2 linked regions of the Homo sapiens genome follow. The protein of the gene in region 2 interacts with the protein of the main gene of each other region in a pairwise test. Each region holds a gene or a part of one and is shown on either strand. Other genes may lie near its edges.

Region 1 (10,854 bases), on a different chromosome or scaffold from region 2:
GGTTTCTGGGTAAACAAACATGTTAAAATCCATTCCTGAAATATCTTCAAAAGAGAAAGACCTTTTCTTTTTCTTTTTTTTTTTTTTGTTGTTGTTGTTGTTGTTGTTGTTGAGACAGAGTCTTGCTCTGTCACCCAGGCTGGAGTACAGTGGCGTGATCTCAGCTCACTGCAACCTCCACCTCCCGGGTTCAAGCAATTCTCCTGCCTCAGCCTCCCGAGTAGCTGAGATTACAGCCATGTACAACCACATCCAGCTAATTTTTGTACTTTTAGTAGAGACAGGGTCTTGCTATGTTGGCCAGGCTGGTCTTGAACTCCTGGCCTCAAGTGATCCACCGGCCTCAGCCTCCAAAAGTGCTGAGATTACAGGCATGAGCCACCATGCCTAGCTAAGAAAGTCTTTTTCTAACCTAAATTTCTATTCAAAGAACACGCCTTGAAGGCTAGCACTGAGCTTTATTCAACTTCCCTCAGAAACACTAAGTAGCACACTTGGACCCACAGGAGACACTCATTAATGTTCAGTTAACTGAATATAAAGAAAATAGTTAATGTATCTTTTACAAGTAAGATCTGATTAATAAAAAAAAAATACTAAAAAGAAGGCTGATTGGTTTTGTTTTGTAGCATCCCATTTTGGAGAATTTGATGCCTGGAGACTAAATAATAGTCTAAGCAATAGTATTTTATTCAGAAGCATCATGTCAGCCTTTTTGGAGCTGTATCTATGAAGGGAGAGGTAGTTTTATGTAAGAGATTAGGACATCAATGCCACAATTTAAAAACAGCTTTCAAAGAAAAACTGTTTATTGATATAAAAAATAAAATGACTGACAATAAATACTTGTGAACTATTTAAATGCATATCAATAAAAATCCTAATATCACTACATCTGGCTGATACATCTAACACAACCTCATTACTAAAAATATCCCTAGCCCCTTATAAAAATAACTAAAAAAAAAAAAAAACCCCAAATCTCTCACTCTCCTTCAAATATAGAACAATTTTGTCTTCATTTATATTTTTTTCCATACACGACCAAGGCACTTTGAATAATAAATCAACTAGAGAAAATGTCCTTGGTATGGTTTTCTAAATCTTCACTGTGTATCTCTTTCAAGTGAGATGAAAGTCAAGTGTCCTGGTGACTTTAAACACACAGGTTTCCATTTTTTCTGTGGATATTCTCCCATTAAACTTAACAAGGGAAGTAGCTAAAAAAGCGTCAGCCTTGCTTTTTTAGGTTAAGTCTTAAGGCAGTGCAGAATCTAAAAGATGTTTGTGAATTAAATGAAATAATGCAAGGCTGTCTCTTTTTTAGTTATTTCCACAGCAATGTAAAAACTATGCTAAATATGCATTTAGGAGAGTTAGCAGAAAATCTGAAAATAATTCCTTGCTTTTCCTAATTCAATTTTTCTAGTAACGAGTTTTTATAGAAATATTCTTCTGAGTTGGAAGGCCTGGTAGCAGTACCATCATTTTTTATCAGGTCTTTCTAGAAAGGAATAAGTGTTGTATTCAGCCTCAACACATGCATATGGCCATTTGCCATTTGACTAAATATGTTCTAGTATATCTAGCATAGGGTATCAAAAAGATCACCTCCAATGTTTGAGTCTCTGTAACCAGGAAAAATGCCTTACTTACACAGTGACACTTTTACATCTCGTTTGTCATTGGAGACACGGTAAGCTCCATAGCCGGCCAAACATCCAACAAAAAGACCAGCAATCAAAGACGGAACACCACCTGGAAGGGGAAAAAAATATGAGATCACAAAGAGAATCCCAAAAGGAAAGGAATTCATTCCATTACTTCTAGTATGATACAGGCACCTTCAAATGTATTCCTACTTGGGCACAGTAACTGGACAAAGCCAAATTAAGAATAGGCCTCTTCATGGATACTTTCTAGGAGATGACTGTTTCCTGCTGAACCCAAATGCAAGGCAGAGGAGCCCTGAGGGCACAGCAGTGCAGTGGGGTTAGATGTCACTTGGGGAAATAAGAAAACCTGCCTTGTTCTGGTGGCTTGGACACTGATTACATGATCTTGGACAATTATTTAACTTCCTTAAGCCCTTCTTTTTTAATTTTTCCTATTCTCTTTGCCTCCTTTTTGCAATGAGGTTGTGATGATAAAAACTAAGATGCAAAGGTAGTTTTAGTTTATAGAGGTAAAGACAGAAGTGCTATACAAACCAAGCAATGGTTCCATCCTGAATAATTAACAAACCTTCATGCCTCAAGATGTCAGGACTCAAGGACTAATAGAGGCCCTACCAAGAAAGACGAAGAATCAGAATACTGACCCCAGCTACCCAGTCCCTATCCCATGCACTCACCCCACCAGTACACTCCCAGCCCCCAACCCACATACCCACCCCAGAGCACTGTGGCAAACACCAAGCACTTTCTGTGCACTGGACAGTGGGTTACATGGCAGTGACACTATGAATAAGACACACACAATCCTTGCTTCATGGAACTCACCCTATTTAGAATCTGTTAGGTTAAAATCCCTGGGGGGTAGGGTCAAAGCATCTCATTTTTAAAATATCCATTGGAAATTCAAATGTGCAGCCAGGGTTAAGAACCACTGCAGCACATGCATGCATACACACACAATACACACACACACACAAACACACAAACACAACACATACAACACACAAACACACACACACAACACACACACACACACCAGAGCAGCATTCTGAATGAGAAGACAAACACGCTAGGTTCTACTCCTAATTCTTTCACTTGCTGGCTAAAGGACTCTGGCTAAGTCACTTAGCCTCTCTAAGTTTTAGCAGTTGTAAAACGGGGTTAATCATCCATGCCATATATATATGTGTATATATATATATACATATATGTATATATATATATACACATATATATACACACACATATATATACACACATATATATATACACATATATATACATATATATATATATATATAAATATATAAATATATAGTGGCTTAGAATGTTACAGTTGGAGATAATGTTAAATTACACATTGTTTCCCCCAAAAGCTATTCTTCAAACACAGTAAGATGATCTTTTAAAAACATACATCTGGACAGGTCACTCTCCTAATTAAAAACCTTAGTGCTTCCCAAAGCTCTTAGGAAAAATAATCCAGTTTGCTATATTGTGGGAACCCTGGCCTTCTTTCAGTTCTCTGAATATACCAAACTCTATTCGTCATGGCTTTCAGACATACTGTTCCTTGTGCAGACTGCTTGTCTCTGCACTGTTCACTTGGCCAAGTGTAGCTCACCTTCGGATGTCTGCTTAAGTGTTGTCTTCTCCAACCCACCATTCTGAACAAGGGCCCCCATCATAGTCTTCCGCTATTCCTGATCATATGTTTATATGCTGTTCATGGATTGAATGTCAGTCTGCCCTTACTCACTTGTGAGCGATTGCTGTTTCCCCAGGGCGAGACACAGGGCCAGGTACATAGGAGCACTTGATAAATACTGATTTAATGCACCCCTATTATGGGTCATGTTCAAGCAGAAGATACCAGATAAGGATATTAAGGAGATTAAAACACTTTCTGAAATGCACAACTAGGTGACCATTAAGGTGTCTTCTCACCTAGAGATTCTATGATGCTCCTTTCTGTATACCCTGAAGGTTTATTTACTGTTAGGATCACCCCACCCCACCCTCCCCACCACCACCAAACACGCACACTTAAGTATGTGGAGAAAGTGGCAGTGTCTACACTTCAGTCTTGATGAGATCAGACAGCAAACAGCAGGGGCAGGCTCACCAGCAGCAAGAACCAGGAAGGTTCTTGAGACATTTCATCTTGCCTGAGGAAGGTGGCAGGACTGTGGGCTGTTTTACAAGAAAACCACGCTGGTGGAAGAAAGCAAAGATCCTGAGAACAAGCTCAGTGACCCATAGTGGGGGCTACAAGAAAAGGAGCTCTAAGCTCTTTTCCTTCCCACTTCCTGGGATGCCTGATCTGGGTGGGGCAGTCTTGGAAGAGGAGTTTTAAAAAGAGTTGAAAGATGCATCTGGGAGCTTCCCTGCAGGTGCTCTTATGGTCGTCCAAATAGCAGCCTGCCCAGCAAGCACACCTGCACCTCTCTGAAGGGATTGCTGTGTCAGTGCCCTTCCCTTCAACTGGAGTAGGAAGGTGTAAGGTCTGGTTCAGCCCTAGTGTGGGACAAGGCAGGGAATGCCATCTGGCCCTCTTTCACTCTGGGCACTCGATGTTACCTGGCCTAGGAAGAGCCTCCATATCATAGCATCTTCTTGGTCATCCACCTCTCTGGAGACCTACCTGGGAGGAGGGGTGAGCCCAGGCAAGCACAGTGCTCAGCATCCTGTGTCCCGCCACTGGCTGCCCTCTCTCCCCACTGTACCCCCATCAAAATAAAAATCTATCAGCTTCTCCGTTTAACCCAACTTGTGTCTCACAGCTGGTCTAGTTTAGGATTTGGATACATCTGTGTCCTCCCACTAAACACCATTTCGACATCACATCTTTCACCGACCCAAGATTATTCTCAATAACTGTCCCGTAGAAGGGTCTCCTGGCCCAGCTACATAGGACTCATACCTAGGGAAGCTCTAAGTCAAAGGAGAGTTAACTCACTTTACACACACATTCTAAGACATTCGAGCCACTGGCAGCTTAGAACATAATACAAAACTAGAGTACAAAACTAGAAAAAGGTATTATGCCTCATGGCTCACAGACCTCCCACTGGCAGGGCAGTAGCAGCAGAAAAAAACAAGAAGATTAAAACTTTATTCTATGCCAGGCACCATGTGAAATGTGTACCATGCATCATCTTATTTAATCCTAACAGATTAATTTACAGGTGAGGAACTGAGGCCCAGATGTTGAAACATCTCACCTGAGTATCAGTGCTGGTAAGTGGCAGCGTCAAGACTGGAATGCAGGAATGCTTGATTCTGTGGCCCATGCTTTTAACCCACATTATACTACAAAGTGAGCTTCCTTGTGAACCCATAATACCCTTGGGGGCTTCCAGGATCACTTAGTAGGGGGCTCTTGCAGGAGGCCAAGAAACCATATTGTGCAGGTGGACAACAAGCCCTTGAAATCAGAGACCTCACAGCTAATGTAATTTCATTTGTTCCCACCAGCTGGTAAACAATGAAGAGATGTGAGTTAGAATAAAATGATTCCTTCCACACACACACACACACACACACACACACACACACACACACAAACACACACATACACACACTCTCTATATCTCTCTCCCCACTTTCTTTCCACCTCTCATAAAGGCAGGCAAAAATGCCCAGATGTTCTTTTCTGTTCTGTAATAGAAGTTATTTAGACATTGTCTTTGACAGTGAAAATTTTTTTTCAAAAACAATCTTAGCATTTTAAACTGAGTTCTTTCTAAAGTAGATTGTGAAACATCAACCTCTGAGTACTTGGTTTACAGGTCTTACTTTGGTGCCATCATCTTTTTTTTTCCTTCAAATACACATCTCTAATACATACATTAAGACAGAAACAACGAACAAAAATCCAAGGTGAATTACAGGCTTTAAGGAATCGTAGATGATGGTCAATTCTACCTGCCAGCCCCCCAGCTACAAGAGCTATACGGTGCTTCTGGTCTTTGACTTCTTAGCAGCCTTTAAGGAAGGAAGCTAACTGGTAACCATGTAGACCTGGCTTTTTCACTCAAATTCAAGTCAACCACTGCCACAAATACAATACCCTTTGAAATAAAAAACTTCATTTAAAAAATGTCATTAAAACGTAAGAGACAGTTTGTCAGAAAGATGACTAAAGGTTGTGTATATATATGAAACATAACTAGGAGACATCATAACTATAAATGATTCTAAAATAAAAGTAAAATAAAAAAATTTGACCTTTCCTTTTTCTCCATGAAAACTCTTTAATTGATTACCTGAGTTTTTTTCCCCCCTCTTTTGGACAAAGGTGAAGAGACAACTTTGGATATGATAACTGAATATTTAACAATGTTTTCATTACAACACACAGGATCAATATAACTCAGTTTTTTGGTACCACGATTATGTAAAGCAAAAAAAAAAAATCCTCATTTAATAATAAGCAGTGGTCCTGAGGGAGATTAAATCAATTAACTATGCAACTGATGATGAAGTGAAGTGAGAGTTTTGTGGTGGAAGAGAGGCCCAGAACCCCCAGGTTGGAACACTCTGTCATGCTCAGCCCCACGGAAGCCTCTTCCTTTCATGAGTCCCTTCCAAGACACGCTGGTCTTCAGCCACCTCTAAGGCATCTTTAGCTTCTCATCCTACTTACAGAGCCTCACATGACCTAGCACAACCTCCAAACCCCCACTAATTCCCTTTCATGAAAATTTGGGTTAGGCTTACCTCTCCGCTTATATCCAAAAATGCTTCCAAATGTCACGAGGGCTGCATAACCAAAACCGATCAGGTCCATTGGCAAGGTTGCAATTCTAAAGCAAGGGGGAAAGGACAAATTATACAAAATAAAAAAGTTTTGGGGAGGGAATGTATCTAAAAATGATACGCTTATATGGTTTGGCTGTGTGTCCCCACCCAAATTTCATGTTGAATTGTGATCCTGAGTGTTGGAGGTGGGGCCTGGTGGGAGGTGACTGGATCACGGGGGTGGCTGCTAATGGTTTAGCAACATCCCCCTAGTGCTGTTCCATGATCTAAAGTTCTCACAAGATCTGGATGTTTGAAAGCGTGTAGCACTTCCCCCTTCACGTGCTCTCCCCCTCCTGTCGCCATGTGAAGACATGCTTGCTTCCCCTTTGCCTTCCACCATGATTATAAGTTTCCTGAGGCTTCTCCAGCCACGCCTCCTGTACAGCCTGCGGAAGTTGAGTTGATTAAACCTCTTTTCTTCATAAATTACCGAGTCTCAGGTAGTTATTTAGAGCAGTGTGAGAATGACTAATACAAAGACATTCCACAGAATTACAGAAATTAATTTCTCTAGTCTACTAAAGAAAGGGAAGTTCGGCCAGGCATGGTGCTCACGCCTGTAATCCTAGTACTTGGGAAGACCAAGGCAGGTAGATGGCTTAAACCCAGGAATTTGAGACCAACCTGATCAACATGGCAAAACCCCATCTCTAGTAAAAATACAAAAAATTAGCTGGGTGTGATGGCATGCACGTGTGATCCCAGCTACTCAGGATGCTGAGTTGGGAGGATTGCTTGAGCCCTGGAGGTTGAGGTTGCAATGAGCCGTGATTGTGCCACTGCACTCCAGCCTGGATGACAGAGTGACACCCTGTCTCAAGGGAAAAAAGAGGTTCAAACTTCACCTCTCCCAACCCTCTACTTTCCCCTTCATCCTCATCACTGTTAAGCACACTCTGGGGGGTACCTCAAGCTGATTCTCCTCTGCCTGTCTTCAAGATCTGCCATACTCTCAGCTGTTCAATTCTTTCCACTTACCCAAATAAAACTTCTGCTCTGGTCAGCCAGGTCTCTTCACTGAACTGTGACACTACAATCTTCACTTTTCACTTCCATGCCTGAAATGTCCTCCCTCCCTGTCCACCTCCAAAAGCCCGACTATCCCCTGTATGCCACCTCCCTTTAAACCTTCTCCCCTGACTTCTACCCTTATTAATTACCTCCTAATTTCCTTGACTCTAGTCTGTACTATCAAAGTGATCTGGAGCAAATGCCTTCTTCCTCCTCTAAATTCCTTAACTTCCACAATTCCATCTTATAATTCTTTCATGTCTGTACAGATATTAGTCCTCTCATTCTTTACAGATGGATGTCTTCTTGGAGATTGACTAATTCAGTTTAAACAATGGCTTTGTCATTAGTTTCCTTGCAAGATAGCTCTTCTGTGGTAGCAGAGACATCCACACTTAATCAATGGCAAATCACTAAAGAATACAATATAGCCCCAGCATGAAGTTAAATGGATGACAATGACATCCTACTGTGCATCATAGCAGCAGCTGAAACATACCCAGTGGTGAGAAGTTCCACTGAAACCCTGCCCACAATTCTCTCAGATGCAGTAGATAGCGTGCCAGCCACAGGCTAGAGATGTGGCCACTGGGCCTCAGACCATGCCCCTCCCTCACCCTCAACTCTCCCTGCAAGTTAGGAGAATAGATGAAAAGAGTTCTGGAGTTCTTTACAGCTTTTTAAGTTCTAAGACCCCTAGTGGTGCCTTTATTTCTGAGCTTTCTCACGTCTATATTTCTTCCACAGGGAAGGTAATTATCTTTGTAAATGTGAGGAATGGTAAGTGAGATTCCTTGCATATTTTTACAATTTTCTCATTGCTTATCATTTAGGTTAATGGGCCTTTTATCTCCCATTATCAATTGGTAATAAATTAATGTAGAACATAAAAAGGGGCCAGGCGAGGTAGCTCACGCCTGTAATCCCAGCACTTTGGAAGGCAGAGGCTGGTGGATCACTTCAGGTCAGGAGTTTGAGACCAGCCCAGTCAACATGGTGAAACCCCTTCTCTACTAAATATACAACAAATTACCCGGACGTGGCATGGTGGTGCATGTCTGTAATCCCAGCTACTCAGGAGGCTGAGACCGGAAAATCCCTTGAACCTGCGAGGCAGAGGTTGCAATCAACTGTGATCGTGCCACTGCACTCCAGCCTGGGCGTCTCAAAAAAAAAAAAAAAAAAAAAGAAGAAGAATTTTGAGCTGATCTCAGAGTCATCCACTAGAACTTACTATGAGGAAGGGTATGGGGGAGGGAAGCTGAGGCACAGGAGATGACAGCACCAAAAAGGAGGCAACACTGAAAAATGCTCATCATCTGCAGGAAGGAGAATTAAAACAGGAGAGCTCATCTGTGGCCGAGAAGTGGTACAGTAGGATGTAGCATGTAGGGAGAACCTGGGTCCAAAAACCATTTGCTGACTGAATGATGGCTAAACAAATAATAATAATAAAGAGGTTATAATGTTTTTGAGCAATTACTATGTGCTAGGTGCCATTCTAAGGCATTCTAGGTGCCTTATGTGTATCAACTCATGTAATCATGACCACACCCTATGGTATGTACTGTCATGATTATCCTCATTTTCCAGATGAGGAAAGTGGCACACAGAGAATGCAAGCAATGCCTGAAGGTTATACAGCAAAACAAAGATCTCTGACTTAGGGAAGTCTCAGTCCTAACCTCTATGCAACATCACCTCTGATAACTGAGTTAGCTGCTGAAAAAAAGCGAACATGTAAACCAAACATGTTCTTCAGAGTTTTCAATTCTGGATCAATCACATGCTCTTCATAGCTTAAAGTTGTGACCACAGGGCACTGTGTTCCATCTGGTAACTTACAATGTTCAGCCCCATGAACTTCTCATGTTTGATCCTACTTATTATCTTTCTAAAGGAGCTAACCATATGCTATAAAGTATGCTTATCTTCAAACCTGATACCACCACTTACTAGCTGTGGAACCTCAATAACTCAGTTTCTCCATCTTTAAAATAGGGATAACAAAAATATCTACCTTATAGGATTGTTCTGAGAATTAAATGATTTAATACTGTAAAGCACTTAGAACAGTGCCTGCACATACTGAGCACTCAACAAATATTAGCTGCTCCAATGATTACTCTTCTCATTCACCCTTACACCTATTTTAAGCTTGACATGTGTAAGGCTATTACTATTTCAGCACACTGAGAAAACTGAGGTAGGGTGAATTTGTAATTTAGTTAATGAATCATACCATAGTATTATAACATATATTTGTAGTCAATTCGACTTAACAGCTATTTATTTAGCATTTTCTTTAGGCAAGGCAGCAGGAAGCAATGGTAAGTGCTAAGACATGGCCTTGGTCCTCCAGGAACTATAGTACAACACAGCTGTAGGAGGCAGATGTGTGAATGAGCCCTAAGAGGAGAGGTGTGGGTACCATAACAAGGAGTGGCACCCAGCAAGGACTGGGAGCCTAAGGATGCCCAGATCAAACAGGGTCCCAGCTGGGACCTTGGAGAGATGTTGTGCCAAACCCCTATTAACCTCAATAAGGAAGGCAACAGGTTCAAGAGGCCAAAAGAGACCCATTAGGGGCTTACAAACAGAGGAGGGAGTCCAGTGGTGGTGAGCTGGGCAGGAAAACAACCGCTTGCAAACATCATGCAATTTATGCAGCATTTTCACTTAACACCCTCCCCTCAATGACCTCTACCTGGCAACTTGATTTAACTCAAAATTCAAGGCCTCAATTCCCCGTATGGCCCCTGTTCTATGGGACAGGTGGGGCAGGGGCTCAGATGTTCTTCATAGACAAGAAATAAATCTCTGGGTTGGGCAGGCCTGGGTTCCCTAGTTCAGAAAACACATTCAGGTTCATCTGCCACACAGGGTCATTCTAAGGGTATGCTTTAATTATTGCTGTCAGGTGCATTTACCCTACAGGGGAGCATGAATAAGTCAAGTGAAGAGGGTGCAGGGAAGGGTGTTCCTGGCAGAAGGGAGCGCATGTGCAAGGCCCTAATGGCACAAGAAAGCATGTTCTCAAAATGAAAAGTGCAAGGGGCTTGTGAAAAGAGAGGGTGCTGGTGAGAAAGACAGGGCTGTACACCCACATAAGCCCCGTAAAGGGAGTCTGGTTCCGTCCTAAGGGCAATGAAGGATCACTGAAGGGAGCCTCACAATCAGATTTAAATTCCAGCAAGCACTTCCCAGTTGCAGTAGTGAAGATGGGTTGTGAAGTGAGGCAGGGAGATAAATCGGGAAGCTGTTGCAGTAAAGTAAGCAAGAGCTTAGTTGATAACGGTAGGCTTATCTAGAGAAATGGCAATGAGAATGGAGAGAAGGTGGACAGATTTCAGAAGTTCAG
Region 2 (10,854 bases):
TAAATGTCTTATTATTTATCATTTTATTTGAATTTGTTTCATGGAGTATATTGATTTTTTTTTTTTTTTTTTTTTTTTGAGACAGAGTCTCGCTCTGTCGCCCAGGCTGGAGTGCAGAGGTGTGATCTTGGCTTACTGCAGCCTCTGCCTCCCAGGATCAAGTGATTCTCCTGCCTCAGCCTCCTGAGTAGCTGGGACTACAGGCGCCTGCCACCACACCTGGATAGTTTTTGTATTTTTAGTAGAGACGAGATTTCACCATGTTGGCCAGGCTGCTCTCTAATTCCTGACCCCCAGGGATCTGCCCGCCTTGGCCTCCCAAAATACTGGTATTACAGGCGTGAGCCACTGCTCCCAACCATATATTCCTTATTTGAATGTTAGCTGGAAAATGGAATTTAAACACCTTAAAACATGGTTATTGATTATTTAGAGACAAGTCTCCAGCTCAAATGTTAAACTGCATGAGAGAAAAATGAAGTGCTATGCTTTCAGATGCTTAACCATGTAAATATTTTGAAGTTTATTTTCTTTTTAAATAATTTAACAGCTTCTTAAATCTACAATTATTTTTAGGCTCTGAATTGCTTTCTATCAGCTCGAAAATAATTGTGCTTTTCTCATCTTTTGTAACTGGAATTTCACCAGGCTGGTCATCTGAGTTTATATTTTTTATACTATATATACTTGAATACATTTTTGTTAGAGTTTTATAGTTTAATGCAAGAAAAAATGGGAAATTGCTTAAGCATGATTTTCTATTCAAAGTAGAATTTGGAGGGAATGATTCCCAAAATTCTTACATGTTTTGGAAAGGACGGATTTAGTGTACATTGGTAGGGTGTTACTTAAAATGAAACTGGGAAAATTGAAATATACAGAGTAAGGATTTGATACTTACATTTTGTTTTGTCATTGAAAAATGAATATGATTGCTATTAATTTCTTTGTAGATTTGCACAAAGGGCAAAGTTCACATATTTAAGTATCTGAGCATACAAGCATGCCAGATTAAGACAGCTGACTCCCTTTATCTCCACACCATGGAGAGGCCACATTTACACCAGCACGTGGAAGATGGGTGAGTCATGCCCTCATTCAAAGCCCCAGTTTAAAATTTGCCTAGGCCAAGGCCCTCCAGGTAGCTGACTTCAAAATCTGTTTGTTTTAAGTCACCATGGTATCTGCAGAAAACAAAGCAAAACAGAACAATTTGGTTTAATCACCTAATTTGTATTTAAAACAAGAAGTTGAGAAACTATTGGGATATGAAAGAAAAAACTGCTGCTATTGAGAATATTTTGGTATATCTCAAATATCATCTGTCTCCTAATCAATAATCAGTTCTTCCTGAGTAAATATGTGCATACTTATAAATAAGATCTAGAATACAAATGTGAATATTTTTTACTTATCAAAATAACTATATTGAGCCCAGACATGCCTTTTTAGCAATTATTAATGTTGAATATGCCTCCAGAACAATGTTAAGAAAAAAATGAAGGCTTTATTTTTGGTCTTTTAAAAATGCAGTATGTGTAGTTTTGTCGCCACTTCCTGTTTCAAATGGAAAAGTTAGAACCCTTTCACACATCCTAGAGCTTCTTGTGGCATAAATCAAGCCTTGAGCTTCCAAAAAACAACATTCTCACACTGAACACAGTTATAGAAATGCAGGTTCTTTTTAAGAAGTCTTCACTGCAGAAATCTTTTCCTTCACTTTTTGCTACATAAGTAAATTTAAAATTTTGGACTACTCTAATGTTACTTTTATATAATGCTTAAAATATGTACACTGTTTTATGTACTTAATCCCTGGATAAAAATTTACAGAATTATTGAAAGTAACCACATTTCATAACATAAGGGGTAAAAGCAGTTATGTGGTTTATTAATTTTTTATATGCTAGATGCAGTAAAATAAGAACATTGGTAACTATTTTTAAGAAACACCTTGACATCTAAGAGCAAGCCACTTGATTAGAGCATAAATCCATGAAACCCCGAACACAAAGAATTTTATCTTATCCTGTGTTTAGACTGTGCTACTGTCTGATTTTCATTAGGTCCATGTCTTAATATTCTTTAATACTAGACTGATTTGTTGCCTTATGGTAATAATAAAAATTTGCGTAGCAAAATTATTATTAGAATATAAATTGATGTTTCTTGGTGTGAACTTTGTGATTTTAATCTTTTTTAAATGAATTCAATATTGATGGCATCTATCTCAGCAAGAAGGATTCTGATTCGGGAGTTGGAAGTGATAATGGAGATAAGCGATTATCTGCCACCGAGGTAAAGTTAGTGATCAGATTCTTTTCCTTCTGTACTTCTAGACATATCTACCAGTGTTCATTGAACTCCTTTCTGTTAAAGGGCATCGATTCATTTGTATATTCATGTGATATTCGTAAAAGTGATTTGTATATTCATGTGATTTGAAATCCTCGAAGTGTTATATAAATATTAGCTGTTGTTACTTATTCTGCATCTTTAATATCTTTAATATTTTGTAAATGCCTCAAGAGTGGAGTCTGTATCTTCTCCTCTCCTACACATTATCTAAAATATTATTGAGTGCTCAATAAATATTACAAAATGGCTAAGTAGTACGCAAGTGCCCGTGAAGCACTTTTATACATACGCTTATTTTTCAGTAATAGAGTAATTTAGAAAAACATTGTTATACATATGCGTAAATGTTAAGGAATCAACTGTACATTTTATTTTAATAGTTGATCCACAGGAAATGCATTTATGAGTAGCTATAGTTTTTATAACAATGTTTGTTTTCCTCAGACTCTTAGATTGTGTTCTGTTCTGTTCTGTTCAGTTAATTGGATACAAGTTTGGTTACTTGCAAGCTAACAGGCCTCACACATTAGAACTTCCTATAGTGGTTATAAATCATGCTTTGATAACTGATTTATTATCTCACATGTAGTCTATTAGAGTCCCCAAAATCTAACACTAATGTATCATTAAATGGAGCTTCTTGGCCTCAGGGATCTAGAAAGGAGTGGTAGGAAAAGTATCAGGTGCTCTTCTTTTTTTGAGGGAAGTTACTTTCTGTAGTTACTAAGTTAACATTATAATACTGTGAAATTGCAGTTAATAGGCCAGTCACCCCATCAAAGAAACTCACATTTTTTTCTATGTATGACTCCAGGAAAAAAACCTTTCTCCAATTCTCCTCAAGTCGTTGAATTTTAATAGGTAGCTAAGGTATTTGAATTTATTTTTCACAAAATACTCTATATAGCAGTATATTAAAAAGTGGGATTCTTTATCTTTAAAAATCCTTCTAATATAGAGCATTTTGAAAAGAAGAAGAGTTAGTAGGCAGAGAAGGCCAGTGTCAATAAAAGAAAATAACCCATAGGAAGGCACATGAATAGTTTACCGTGCTTCAGTGGGAGAGAGGGGATACTAAACACATTGCTTTAGTTGCATTTTAATTCATCCTCTTCAACTCCTAAGTCCTCGCAAATGGACCATTGTTTCAGAAATTACTCACCCTAAGTATATTTTCTGTTAAATTAAACAGACTCTGCTTTATCTCTCTTCTAAGGCTAATTAAACTCATTAATAAAACATTACATAAAGAACTTCATTATCCTTTTGTTGTCACTTAAGCATAAGTAGGATGCTAATATCATTCTAAAAGGAGCCCAAGGATTTATTCTGTGCCTTTTAATTAGATGCATATCTTTGGAATTTTGCTAAATTTTTAAGATGAGAGGTGGGTAGAAAGAGAAGGGAATACAGAAAAGATTATATTCAACAGAATGAAATGCACACATCTTGCCTTTGGCCTTTCCTTGTCTTATATTACAGCCTCCTTTCCTAAGTACACCTCCAAGAAATTTATTTTTTAGAGTGATAAGTGTTCCAAATTATCTTACATAGCTTCCTATTTTCACTTGGTTTGGCAAAGATTTTACCATCTATGATCAGGTGATCTTACTTCCCATTTAGATGACATTGTGGGGTTCAGGGATCACACCTCATTCTTTTTCTTTGGCTGCTGCCATTGATTGATTTAGCATTTGTCACTGAGAGATTAAAAACATCTTTTTATCAAGATAAACAGGAAAGTGTGGAGCTCTATGAATATTTGTTGAATGAATGAAATGCATGCCTAATTTCTGCCAGTTTCTAAACAATCTGTGCATATGTCCAAAAGTAAACAAGGACAGACTCTGAAAACCATACCTCAAGAACTTAGGAGCAAGCCACAATCTCCTGAAATGTGTTTTGTGGAGGTTCCTGATTTTTGAGATTTGGAAAGCTATTTCCTAAGTAGCAACAGTAAAATGGAGACATAGGAAAATAAACCAGGCTCCATATTTCAGAATCATAGGTTTTCTGAATAAACGTCATCAGCTACTGTGGGAAAGGAAGCCCTCAGAGAGAACTAATCCAATTATTAAAGCCGAAGCTTTCTTCCAAAAATCACACAGAGCAGTTCTTTTTAACTACTACAGTTGTTTAGCATTTTTATATATGTGATGCAGCTTCCTCAGCCTAAAACAGAGAAATAAAACAGGCACCCGTATTAGTTCATTCTTGTGTTGCTATAAAGAAATGCCCGAGGGTCGATAATTTATAAAGAAAAGAGGTTTAGTTGGCTTACAGTTCTGCAGGCTGTACACAAAGCATGTGACCAGCAACTGCTACTGGCAAGGGCCTCAGGGTTGAAGGTGAAGGGAGTGCCTCCTGTCACATGGTGACAGCCAGAGCAAGAAAGCAACGAGGTTGGGGGAGAGCAACGGAGGAGGTGCCATGCACTTTTTTTTGTTTTTTTAAGACGGAGTCTTGTTCTCTTGCCAGGCTGGAGTGCAGTGGCGCGATCTTGGCTCACTGCAACCTCTGCCTCCCGGGTTCAAGTGATTCTCCTGCCTCAGCCTCCCTTATAGCTAGGACTATAGGTGTGTGCCACCACGCCCAGCTAATTTTTGTATTTTTAGTAGAGATGGGGTTTCACCATGTTGGCCAGGATGGTCTCGATCTCTTGATCTTGTGATCCACCTGCCTCAGCCTCCCAAAGTGCTGGGATTACAGGTGTGAGCCACCACGCCTGGCTGATGCCATGTACTTTCAAACAACCAGATCTCACATGAACGCATAGCAAGAACTGCATAGACCCTTCTTGAGGTATCCACCCCCAAAACCCAAACACTTTCCACCAGGCCCCACCTCCAGCATTGGGGATTACATTTCAACATGAGATTTGGAGGGGACATACATCCAAACTGTGTATCAGTACCTGACAAGATTTCAGCTTAAAACAGAGAGAAGAAAACACAGAGAAGCCCATAAGTGTTAGCTCCATGAATTTTCACAATGTGAACACACCCGTATAACCAGCTTCCAGTTCAAGAAACAGAACTTTACCAGCACCCCAGAAAGCCCCACCCCGACCCCAAGAATAACCTCTTCCTAATTTTAAATACCATGGATTAGTTTTGCATTTTTTGAACTTACATAAGTGGAATTGACCTTTGTATCTGGCAACTTATATTCAATATGATATTTGTGAGAATCACAGGATGTTGTTTTATTACATAGCATTCTCCTTATCTACATTGATAACACTTCTCTTGAGTTAAACAGTGCACTGTATCTTTTTAGCCTTCTGACGAAGACACTGTTAGCCTCAATGTGCCAATGTCAAACATCATGGAAGAAGAACAGATCATCAAGGAGGACTCGTGCCATCGCCTTAGCCCCGTTAAAGGTCTGAGAATAAAAATGTGGAGAAAGTGCTTGTTTTTCAGTTTCAAATGTTATGTTTAAAATAACCTGTGCACAGATAGGGCAGTGATAATCTTTCTAGAGTATGTCCTATGTACCAGGTACTGTGTTCTTCTGGGAAGTTGAGCTGATTTAAAATTTAAAAGTCAAAGATGGATACTCTAATCATCTCCATTTTATAGGTGAGAAAACCAAGACTCAGAGAGTTTAAGTAACTTGCCATTGGTCACATAGCTGATGTGTGTGTAGTACTACTTCCTACGGTACATAGTAGAACTAATCTCATTCTGAAGACTTAGATAAAATTCTTTTTTTTTTTTTTTTTTTGACATGGAGTCTCGCTCTGTCTCCCAGGCTGGATGGAGTGCAGTGGCGTGATCTTGGCTCACCGCAACCTCCGCCTCCTGGGTTCAAGGGGTTCTCCTGCCTCAGCCTCCCGAGTAGCTGGGATTACAGGCACCTGCCACCATGCCCGGCTAATTCTTTAAATCCATTCTTGGAAAGAAAATATTGATATGATAGATATATTAGTTAGGAAAACTCTAGCTGCCGTAACATAGATTCCCAAATCTCTGTGGCTCAACACAATCCAAATTAAGTTCAAATGGAGTTAGTGATTGGCAGACAACTCCCCTCTGAGTATTGATTTAAGGACCCAAGCTCCTTTCATACCATGACTCCATCATCTTTAACACAGGCCTTCCAAAACTTTCATGTCCATCTGTTTTAAGCCAGAAGAAGAGCGTGGAGGTTTGCTCGTGGGAGGTTTTTATGGACTGGGTCTGGAAGGAGTGCCCATCACTGATAAGCTAGACTTCATCCCATGGCCACATCGCACTGCACATGAGGGTGGGAAATGTAGTTGAGGTGTGTGTTCAAGAAGCTACTTGACTTTGGCCCAGTCAGGTGACCTTGATTCCCTCACCTGTACATGAGATGATTAGATTAGGTAATACCAAAGGTCCAGTGTAGCTTGAAAATTCTGTGGCTCTTTAATAATCATCAAATGACCACTAAACACTGTCTTGTGTGCCTTCAAGATCCTTGTAATACGTTTCATATCTTGGTTGGAAGCCCTCATTGGGTAACATTAAGGCGATTTTTTGATTGCCCCTGTTTCCCCATGACTTTTAAGGAAAATACAAGCATTTAGTTTTACTCATTTGTGGCAGAGACTGTTTCACAGTGTATAAATAGTGCAGAACTGGATTAATATACAGATCTTCTCATAAATAGTTGGAATTTGCTCTTATTCATGATAGGAGAGCTGTTTAAGTTCACTCAAACCTTAGTGTTGGCTTTCACTTCTTACACTTCGGTTTTTAAGTTTAGCATTTCTGTTTACCTGAGATTATCATGGGAACCATATGTTGTCTAAAAACATAGCTGTATGCTTTATATACAAATATAACTGCCACTTTATTAATTCATATAAAGTTAGTAATATTATACACTGTAGGAGGTAGTATTTTAGGCAAATTTTTCAAATAAAAGAATTATGTAATTTGTTACTAGTGGGTGTTCCCCCTCTCGTCTAGATGTGGGTATTGCATTGGCTCAGAGTGTTTAAAGGGTGGCCCAGTATGGTTCTTTTTCATCTTCAGAACAGTTGGAAGAGTTCTGCAGGGTGTTCCTTTTGCTCCCCCACCTCCCCTGGAACACATTCTAGGTGGAAGTGCCACATCTGGGCATGCTGTCACCTCTGTGTGGCCCTTCTTGTAGACACTTCTTTTGCTGTTATGATTTGGGGCTCTTGCCTAGTTCCCCTCCCACATTCTTCCTTGAGATTATTTGCTGTTTAAGGACAGGAGTCAGATTTGGCTGATTTTTTAATCCCTAAAATGTTTAGCATAATACCTGCCATTTAGTAGCTGCTCAATATTTGTTGGATTTTAAATATGAAATACATAGTAACATATTACTGAGGGCAAAAAAGCCTCTTTTATACTTTCTTTTCTCCATTCCTTAAAAAAGTAAGAGAAAATCTAATTTTTCTCATAGGGAACTGAGCCCAGAGAGGCCTTGACTTTTTAAGCTCAGTTTGGGGCTTTCTGGGGTTATTTTATTTTTATCTTTTCCTCCCTGCAGGGAAGAGAAAACTTGGGTTTTTCATATACCTTCTTCATAGGGAACACAGAAGACTTGAAGTGATTAGATCATATTTGAAGATCAGCTGTGTTTTGCTCTTCTGTTCATGAAATCATGCTTTCCATCTCTCTATATTTTCCTAATAGGGGAATTTCATCAGGAATTTCAACCGGAGCCTTCCCTTTTGGGTGACAGCACCAACTCAGGAGAAGAAAGAGACCAGTTTACTGATAGAGCAGATGGTCTCCATTCGGAATTTATGAACTATAAGGCAAGATTTTCAGGATCAACTACGTTTTTTTACTTATTTCCTTCTGTTTGGCACCGTACAATTTAAGTTGAAGGTTGCCAATCCATCCCCTTCAATGTCCAGCTTGCTGCACCCTCCCTGAAGCGTTCCAAACATCTCAGCGCTCAGCGTGTCTATTTGCTGATGTGAGGAGCTGGTCCCTGCCCTGTGTGCCTCTCCATTTGTCTGTTTATGGATCTGATTTTCTTTCCGCTACTCAGTGCATCGTACAAATTAGCAAACTCATTAGTGTGACCATTGCCACGCAGTAAAAGCTGAAATAGTTTCACATTCTTTTCAACATGTTCTAGGTAAATCCTTTTCTTGGGAGTATATTTATAGTGTGAAGACAAAAGTGGAGACTTTTAAAATTGATAAATGAATGTCTTTCCTTTTTGGAAAGATCTCTCTGAGGACACTTATTCCTGAACTTTTGTAGGTGCCCCGAGGCATTGAAAGGACAGGTGAAGTTGCCGAGTTGTCAGGAAAACCTTCATCTTGGCAGCAACAAAGGGAGGAAAGAAAAATTAGCCCTTTACTGAAGCAGATACTGAAGGTTCTACTTCACAACCCGATTAGGTGCTTGGTATGTTTCTGCCAGCCCTTTTGGTTCAGGTTGTGGTGCCCAAGAATCATAAAGATTATTGTTTTTGTAAAATTCAGATTCACTGTGGCTTCGAGGTAACTTCTGAGTTATTATGTTGAAGCCAAGAATGGGATCCCTAAGTACTCATCTTTATTTTCTGAGCATTGTGTCCTGATGGCTGGACCCAGCCTAAATTAACATCTCTGGGCATCACCTTCAAGGAAATGGAGAGGAAAACAGCTGAATTTTACACTGTAGGAGACCTTCGTGTGCTCAGGACATGTTTATGGCCTCCAGATAAAAATAATGAACGTGACATATGTTTATAGATTACAGAAGTTGTGTAGAAGGATAAAACACAGTCTTAACTCTTTACTTGCTATATTTAATGTCATTAATCCATACATCCTTGTTTTAAAATAGGTCACACCCATTGCCTTGTTTCTGTCCCCTGTCTCCATTGACATTGCTTCATTTGAGCCTCATAGTTTCTCACTTTGATTACTTCAGGCACCACCCCGCCCACTCCACTTCTTACCCAATGCTGCACCCGCGTGCATGCATGCATGTGTGTACACACACACACACACACACACACACACACACACACACTCTTTATATTCTGCCACCAAACATTTTTCTAAAGTGCAAATCTAATGACATTCCTCTCAGGCCACTGGTTCTACAAGGCTTCCCCAGATTAGACCCTATCTATCAGCTCTGTGGGACGATTCTTCCATGAAAATGTGAAAATTGGAGTATATCGAGCATTCATCTTAAGTTAAGAATCTAAGGTAAAGATGGAAACCCTGAAGAATGTGTTAAGAAGATATCAATATTTAAGTTCTAGAGGAAACAAAGCAGTTAGTAAGAATAAAGCGTATTGTTTCAGGAAAGCAAATTTCCCTGGATTCAGAGATTTCAAGGACTTCCTGGAAATGGCTGCCCTACAGAATGGGTCCTGTAGATGGAAACTAGAGGAGCAGATAGGCGTGTGGAAGTCAACTTGGCAAAGGCTTTCTGGAAGATACTTCTCTTGGAAAATCAAAAGAAAAATGTTAATGATAAAATGAACATCTACAACAAGTTAAGGAAAAATTGTGCTTGAAAATCAGGCCCGTATTAGGCTTGATATCCATCAACTTTAAGTCTTTCAACCTGTGCTTGGCCTGGCGGAGTGAATCACACCTGTAATCCCCCACTTTGGGAGGCTGAGGCAGGAGGATCACTTGAGCCCAGGAGTTCAAGATCAGCCTGGGCAACATACTAAGATTCCATCTCTACAAAAAAACAAAAGCTAGCTGGGTGTGGTGGTGTGCTCCTTGAGTCTCAGCTACTCAGGACACTGAGGAGGGAAGATCACTTGAGCTTGGGAGAGTGAGTCTTCAGTGAGCCATGACTGCACCACTGCACTCCAGCCTGGGTGAAAGAGTGAGACCCTTTCTCAGAAAAACAGAGTTCTATGCTTTACATAATCCTGTTTTCTTTACTGAATAAGCATCTTGGACCTTTGCAACCACAGTCAATTTTCATTATTCACAGCAGTTATGTTGTGTGACATCACTGTGCATATCGAATTATCCAATACTGAGCCCTAACTCACTGGGGAAATAGAGGGCTGGGTTCCTGCACCCTCTGCTCACAACGTTTTTGTCAACCAATCAGCACACAACCTTGGTGTGTGTGTATTTCTGTTTAAAGATACCTTATTTAATATATATTGTTTTGATGAACATTACAACCATACCTTATTTAACATATATTGATTGATGAACATTACAACCAACAGCACTGTAACTCATGCCCGAAGGAAGCTTGTCTAACACACGTATTGTCCTCTGTAAGGCATATCACAACTTCCTTGGGCTTCTGAACACAAGGCAGCACTTCAGTACTATGTCTGGGGCCATTTTAAAGTGAAATCACCAACAAAAAACACAACAGTGTGAAAACATGGCACTAACTAGACTGTGAAAAAGGACACTTATTTACAATAAGAGAGCTGAAAGAAGAAAGCAGAGTGTCACCTTGTTCCACCTCATCTGGGAACATACACATCCTGGGACTCAAATTTTTTACCACTCTGTAGATGTCTGCAGATGACCTCCAGAGCACCACGAATACTGGTTTT

The links.
Region 1: the proteins of LRCH1 (region 2) and TMEM14A interact in binary tests that used the Homo sapiens proteins (3 or more experiments, as listed by UniProt).

Annotation. Positions count from the first base shown.
Region 1 is NC_000006.12:52,672,717-52,683,570, reverse strand, and holds part of TMEM14A (transmembrane protein 14A), read right to left. Parts: intron 6,485-10,854; 5' UTR 6,469-6,484; coding exon 6,399-6,468; intron 1,759-6,398; coding exon 1,657-1,758; intron 1-1,656. UniProt on the Homo sapiens protein: Inhibits apoptosis via negative regulation of the mitochondrial outer membrane permeabilization involved in apoptotic signaling pathway.
Region 2 is NC_000013.11:46,686,899-46,697,752, forward strand, and holds part of LRCH1 (leucine-rich repeat and calponin homology domain-containing protein 1), read left to right. Parts: intron 1-953; coding exon 954-1,081; intron 1,082-2,234; coding exon 2,235-2,298; intron 2,299-5,637; coding exon 5,638-5,743; intron 5,744-7,994; coding exon 7,995-8,119; intron 8,120-10,854. UniProt on the Homo sapiens protein: Acts as a negative regulator of GTPase CDC42 by sequestering CDC42-guanine exchange factor DOCK8. Probably by preventing CDC42 activation, negatively regulates CD4(+) T-cell migration.